2 linked regions of the Homo sapiens genome follow. The protein of the gene in region 2 purifies or fractionates together with the protein of the main gene of each other region. This does not show direct contact. Each region holds a gene or a part of one and is shown on either strand. Other genes may lie near its edges.

The links. Proteins that work in one complex are often made in the same cells at the same time.
Region 1: the proteins of NAP1L1 (region 2) and FNTB purify together in Homo sapiens (affinity purification with mass spectrometry; 3 studies listed by BioGRID). This does not show direct contact.

The regions. Positions count from the first base shown.
Region 1 is NC_000014.9:65,024,880-65,028,531, reverse strand, and holds part of FNTB (protein farnesyltransferase subunit beta), read right to left. Parts: intron 1,080-3,652; coding exon 933-1,079; intron 835-932; coding exon 751-834; intron 1-750. Other genes in the region: CHURC1-FNTB protein, read right to left, coding at 751-834, 933-1,079. UniProt on the Homo sapiens protein: Essential subunit of the farnesyltransferase complex. Catalyzes the transfer of a farnesyl moiety from farnesyl diphosphate to a cysteine at the fourth position from the C-terminus of several proteins having the C-terminal sequence Cys-aliphatic-aliphatic-X.
Region 2 is NC_000012.12:76,053,564-76,057,215, forward strand, and holds part of NAP1L1 (nucleosome assembly protein 1-like 1), read right to left. Parts: intron 2,599-3,652; coding exon 2,470-2,598; intron 1,528-2,469; coding exon 1,456-1,527; intron 347-1,455; coding exon 207-346; intron 1-206. UniProt on the Homo sapiens protein: Histone chaperone that plays a role in the nuclear import of H2A-H2B and nucleosome assembly.

The sequences.
Region 1 (3,652 bases), on a different chromosome or scaffold from region 2:
AGCAAACCCATTTACACATAGGCAGTAAGACAGCTTTGCTATAGAAACCTCACAAAATGTATTTCTCAACTAAATAATAAGAAAATGGCATAAAATCTCAATAAGCCACTGTCTTAGAGAAATGGCTTATTCAATGAATTCCCTGTATGCCTCATAAGTAATCTGCCAGGTGAGGAAGCAACTTGCTTGGTACATCAGACACTTATGGAAGAAAATAATAATTTCGAGCTAACTGGCACCAATCAGTTAATGCGATTTTATTGCACTGCACTCTCCCGGCCCACAAGGCTCTCTGCACCTCCCAGAAAAACTCTCATGTGCCTCAGGAGGACCTCAGGGATTAGACATTCTCATGATTTCATCAAATTCACTCAGAAGGTATTTACTGAGGCCCTGCTGGACTTTCCCCTCCCTTCCTATCTCAGAGAGGTGAAGGAATACATTACACCATACAGTTATTTATATTGTGGTATATCATTTTGTACCAAACAAATGTATTTTTAATTTCTAAAACAAAAGCATTTGTTTCTTATATTTTCACATTTACATAAAATAAGTCAAGTGATCATGACACCTGAGGACATCTGCATCACATCTGAATGATTCTGACGTGTCACTGACATGTCATCCCATGTGTCATTCTGGGACAAAGCAGCAGCTTCCCCATGATGTTCCTTAGGCTTGGCATCTCTAATGGCAGATGAGCTCTAGAGTCAACTGATGTGGCAGCCTGTGCAAAACCCCACTCACCTCACATCCACCTCACCTCCGACATGCATGAGAAAGGAGCCGTCAGGTTGCTTCAGGGAGTACAAATACTGAAGAAGCTTCTCTCTGAGAAACAGGGAAAGAGGTAGGAGAGGCAACAGTCAGTGCGTGTCAGCAGGCGGGGAACTCCTCTAGGTTTCTGTCACTGCTGGCTTTCACTGTACCTGTTAATGATGTCATAGGCCTCCTCGGTGCCAATGATGCACAATGCATTGACTGCTGCATATGTGGGTGCAAGGTGTGGATACTGACCGGGTCCTCCTCCAAAGCCACCTTCTGGGCTCTGACACAGCTCCAGGAACTGACACACACTAGGTACACAGCCAAAGGGCAAAAACAAAGTCAGAGAGCATTCATGTCAAAACACCAAATTCCCACTAGATTCCAGGCCTTTCCAATGATCCCCCACTCCCTCAAAAGTTGAGGGGAACCTCTCCTCCCACTTGTTGAATATAACCTCTCCCCAAAGGGCTTAATTCTCTCTCCAGCTATCATCATTTCTGTCTGCCCTCCTCTGAGTTTCGTACTTAAGCGCTTGTTGGTCATGAAGCAGGGAACACAAGGCTGGGAAGAAACCGACTTTCGTAGCTATGGGGTAAGAGTCTCCCGTGCTTCCCACACAAACCTTTCCCAGACTTTCCACTCAACTTGCTGCCCTGGACCTGTGGTACCAGCCTCCTCCTCCTTGCCTTTGGGAACCTCCCAGCCTTTGAATTTTGCCAAAACATGGTGCTCAACTGCTTCTTTCCACACTAACCATCCTAGTCAGGATCCATCACCTAGGCCTATCATGAACATGTAAATAGAGGTCTTCTCACTCCCATTGCCACCTAAGCCTCTGTGGGCCACTGATTTCTACTCCACCAGTAAGAAGCAAGTTTTGTTTTTTTGTTTTTTTTTTTGAGGCGGGGTTGCCCTCGGTCGCCCAGGCTGCAGTGCAGTGGTGTGATCTCAGCTCATTGCAGCATCCGTCTCCCAGGTTCAAGAGATTCTTTTGCCTCACCCTTCCAAGTAGCTGGGATTACAGGCGTGCACCATCACGCCCAGCCAATTTTTTGTATTTTCAGTACAGACAAGGTTTCACCATGCTGGCCAGGCTGGTCTTGAACTACCTGACCTCAAGTGATCCACCCGCCGCAGCCTCTGCAAGTGCTGGGATTACAGGTGTGAGCCACTGCATCCGGCTGAAAAACACATTTTTAATGGAGCCTGCTTCCATGGCTGGGAGAACAGAAGAGAGGCAGGCTGCTCTCATGCTCACCTTAATTGCGGTAAACATAAGAGGAGCTGCACTGACTCGCCGTGAGAATGCCTCCCAGTCTGCGGGTTCTTGGAGAATTCTCCACGTTAATTCAAACAGGCTCCCATTCCCTCACTGAGGGGAGCTGTTTTCTGAGGGTTTGCCTCCAAGCCTGGCATCAGGCTGCCCAGAGGTTACAGTCTTGCTTTAGGTGAAATCAAGAGAGCCCTATCATCAGTCCGGGGTCTTCCGAAGTGCACCAGAAAGGGTGCCCCAGGAAAGCCCTGGTTATCAAGCTGTTTCTCCACAGCTCAGCAGGGTCACAGCCTTCCCGCCAGGAGAAACCTCCATTTACAACAAGCAAACTGTCTTTGCAGTGTTCATGGGGCCTTCTTTCCTGGGCGCTTTCACCTCATTATTTCCTTGCTACTGCTGCCAGAAAGACTACATAGCCTACTCTCCAAGAAGACACAAGTTTATAACTGTTTGCCAACATCACATTTAATTGCTTTCGATTTCAGAGTTCCCATTATCCGGGCAGAGAAAGCAAAAGCAAACGCTGCTGCCTTGCTCTGTGAGTTCTGAAACGTCACAGGTTAAAACAACACATACTTCTTTTTGCACCTACAATTTTACTGTAGAAAACACAAGGATTGAAACTGAAGTTGAAAACAATTATGTGGCACTATGGTTTTTGTTTTTGATTTTGAGAGAGGGTCTTACTCTGTCGGCCAGGCTGCAGGACAGCGGCATAATCACGGCTCACTGCAGCCTCAACCTCCCCAGACTCAAGCTATCCTCCCACCTCAGCCTCCCAAGTAGCTAGAATTACAGGCATGAGCCACCACGCCTGGCTAGTTTTTGTATTTTTTATAAAGATGGGGTTTCGCCATGTTGCCCAGGCTAGTCTTGAACTCCTGGGCTCAAGCAATCCTCCCACCTCGGACTCCCAAAGTGCTGAGGTCACAGGTGTGAGCCATCATGCCCAGCATGTGACACATTTTTAACAGCAATTAATTTCTGTAGAGAACTTGAATTTGTTCCTTCTTTCCAAATCGTCATCAATTCTTATGACATTTCCCAGAAACAAATAGTTAATAAGCTCATGCCCTAACAAAGGCTGGCTGCACTAGCATACCAAAAGGTTTCTGTACCACAAAAAGTTTTAGCTGATACAAAACTTAACAGCACATTTTTTAAAAGAAAGAAAAAGAGTCACCTGGTTATCCACTCCCTTTCCCAGCTCCTAAGATAGAATCGTGCCGAACGCAACACTACTGACCCTAAAGCCTCGAATTAGTTAGGATCTGAATGTACCAGACACACCTTGATACCATCCCTCCATGCCAACCTCCCTCAGCTGACATGCTGCATCTGACTGTCTGGGGCTGTGCTAGAGAACTGGAGGTTGGGCTTCTCTTGATCTCAGACACTTCCGTATTACAGAACATTCTGATCCCAAGGCTTTCCAACTTGCACCTTAAGGAATTGGCAAGTTGACTATGAACTACCAGCTGTCATTCACAGACTTCTTAGCAATTCTGAAGACCAAAATGTTAATGATACTTCTACATATTTAAAAAAAACAAACAAACAAAAAAAAGGAGCCAGGCATAGTGGCTTGTGCCTGTAATTCCAGTACTT
Region 2 (3,652 bases):
AAGCATTCCTCTGCAAAAATATATGTGAGACAGTCATGGGTCCAAGGAGAATTACAGGAAACTTGATAAGCACTTTTCAGAAAACATATTACCAAAATGTTCAGAGACAGACTATGTACATATGTAACTGAAAATAACCGAGTATACAAATCAAGTATAACAAAAACAGAAAAAACATTTTGTTAAGGTAGTAAAATTAAACTCACCCTGTACAACCCATAATTTCTGGTCCATCAAAAGAAAAGGGATCAGAATCATCTGGTTCTGACCTCATCCTGTATGTCTTTGTCAGCACTTCATTTGTAAAATATTCATTGGGTTCAAAGTGAAATTCTAAGACAAAACTCTGGGGAGAGGAAGCATAAAAATCAGTTAAATACCTACCTCACATATTTCAGTACTTTAGTAAACACAGCTTCATCTGTTTTTATAAATATTCTAAATGATAATTTTTTTTTCTACTCTGAAATACAATCTTCTTTTTGAGACTGAGTCTTGCATTGTTGCCCAGGCCGGAGTGCAGGGGCACAATTTCAGCTCACTGCAACCTTTGCCTCCCAGATTCAAGTGATTCTGGTGCGCCAGCCTGCCAATTATCTGGGATTATAGGTGTGTGCCACCACACCCAGTTAATTTTTGTATTTTTAGTACAGACAGTGTTTCACCACGTTGGACAGGCTGGTATTGACCTCCGGACCTCAAGTGATCCACCCACCTCGGCCTCCCAAAGTGCTGGGATTACAGGTGTGAGCCACTGCACCCAGCCATGAAATATTTAAGAATGGGACAGACTGTCAGATGAGCCCCAAATTATGTTAAAATCAAAAAAATTACGTTAAAATAATAATGAGGTACAAATTGAACTGAATAGAACTTAGTTTCAATTTACATCTATTAAATAATTAACATGTTTACACAACAGGCTAGGCATTCCTGAATAAAGTGACCATGTTGCCTCCCTTACTCCCCAACTACTGGAGGAATCAGGCTTTTAAATAGTAGACTAAACGTGAACTTGACACAGAAAAAGCCCAACCTTAAGCATCTACAGCCTATATTCTTAGCAGTTTTGCCCTTAGTTGACATTAATTCTGGTGGTTTGGTGGACAGCTTGTTGGCTGATCTTTCCTCATTAGGGAGTGGGCATCCTCTAACATCAGTTTTGTGTAATTCCCAAGCTCATGCCTTTTAATGCAGAAAAAGTACTTATTCATGTTCCCTTGGCATTATTTTTATCCACTTATCCAGGAACAAGGATTGTCTGTGTTTCAAACACAATTTATGATCAGAAGGAGGAAAAGGAATAAATACTGCCTCACAATTAGCAGCATCCAAATATTTATTCACTATAACAAAGAGCACCAACCTTACCCTTGAATGTTATCTTTTTAAAAGCTTCTATTTATCTACCTGTAAGCATGTTACAAAATTATAAATATTTCAAAGTTCTTTTACCATAGGCTGGCCAGCATCTGAGAACTTCACTTTAATATCTTTCAAGTGCTTCAGAATAGGTTCATCGTGTTCCTTCAAATTAAAAAAATAATAAAAATGAATAACATGGCATTCGAGGACTGTGTTCTGTTACTACACAAACACCAGCTGACTGAGACATAATATATTTCAAAGTAGTTTTGTATAGCAATTATGAACCTTAAGACTTACTCTCCAGGTTATGGCTTATACTAAAGCTAATTTATACTGTAGTTCTACTGCCACTGGTAGAGAAAAAGTGTCCAAATAGACAACTGAATTATTATATAGGTTGAAAAATCCAAAATCAAGTCTAAATAAGGCATATCTACTTTTAAAATGTTTCCTGATTGTAATTGCTGCCTTTTCCAGCTGCTTGTCCCCTTCCTCCTGGTCGTTCCTTTTCCACTTTGCTAAAGTAGAATTGTAATAAGCAGTAATTGTGTGAAGATCATTTCTTTTTCTCCATGTAACTTCCAACAATGACAAGACAGGGCAACATGTACTACTACAATGTAGACGGTAGGGGCTCACTCAAGAAATGCTTGAGGCAGTTTCCCAAAGGTGACAACAGTTATGGTTTGCCAGAGAATGTAACCATTGTGAATGAGTTTAACATCTTTATGGTATTCTTTTAAAATGCAAATTTCTCCTGGAAGAGTTAAGGGAATTGCATAATTGCAGCTATAAGATTAACTTTCCCATCATACTTCCATACTAAGTATGTAAAGACAAAAGGCACAGGGTTATAAGAAAACACCAGTCGATAATGAGCCATTATCAATGGGACCATTTCATTATCTCATTTTTTAAAATAAACTAATTTATTTGATTACATTAATCAAAGCTGTAATTTCTCTTCTACAGATATTAGCTATTTCAAAAGTAAGCAATCATTCTAGAAAGATCAACACTGAAGAGAACAGTGATCACAGCCATTTAAACTTCAAAGGTTTACCCTTCAAAGTAAACTGGTACATTTATGAATAAAATTACCTGAACCATATCACTGAGCAAGTCAACATTCTTAAAAACAGTTAACCAAAATTCAGGAATTCCTTTGGGGTCTTCTTTTTCTTCATCTTTTTTCTCATCTTCAATCTTGGCCTTTTCTTTCAATTCCTCCTTGATTAAGTGACAGCAAACATTATTTAATACATAGATTAGACCTCATGATAAAGTAGCAAAGGTATAAAAACCAAAAAGCACAGTCACCAGATATTACCTTCAAAGTTCTAGTCTATCTGTGTAAACACCGCCGTTGCCCATAACAAACCTTAATCCCATCAAAATTACTGCTACCACACCCCTCCAAAGAGAACCACTAAGGTGACCAAGATGTGTAGGAAAAACCATTTTAGTAAAAAAAAAATGTAAAAACTAATTAAAAATGAAGACTTAAGCATAATAAACAAGAAAAGCAACAGAAATACTAATTTGGTCCATTGCCTCACCCCATGGTGTTCTTAATCAAAACATTATATTCTCTTTACCAAACAACATAAAATAGCAATGCTAGAGAGGTGGAACACTTAACACAGCACTGAATGTGTGTCACAGCTCTGCCATTATTCATTGTGGGCAAGTCACTTAGAAGCCTCCATGTCTTCACTTGAAAATGGCAACAATCCTCAGCCTACCATGAAGTTAAAAAAAAAAAAAGAATATAATGAATCTACAAACTAAAAACTGTAAGCCAGGCGCAGTGGCTCACGCTTGTAATCCCAGCACTTTGGGAAGTGAGGTGGGTGGATCATTTAAGGTCAGGAGTTGGAGACCAGCCTGGCCAACATGGCGAAACCCCATCTTTACTAAAAGTACAAAAAATTAGTCAGGCATGGTGGCGCACGCCTGTTATCCAGTTACTGGGAGAAGGAGGCAGAAGAATTGCTTGAACCCAGGAGGTGGAGGTTGCAATAAGCCGAGACTGCACTCCAGCCTGGGCAACAGAGACTCAAAAAAACTATAAAAATAGGCTGGGCACAGTGGCTCAGTGGTTCAAGCCCATAATCCCAACAGTTTGGGAGGCTGAGGTGCGAAGATTGCTTGAAGCCAGGAGTCTAAGACCAGCCTAGGCAAGAAGACTCTGCCTCTACAAAAAAAAGTAGATTAAGCTGGGCATAGTAGCTTCAGATAGTCCTAGCAACTTGGGAGGCTGAGGTGGGAGAATAGCTTGGGC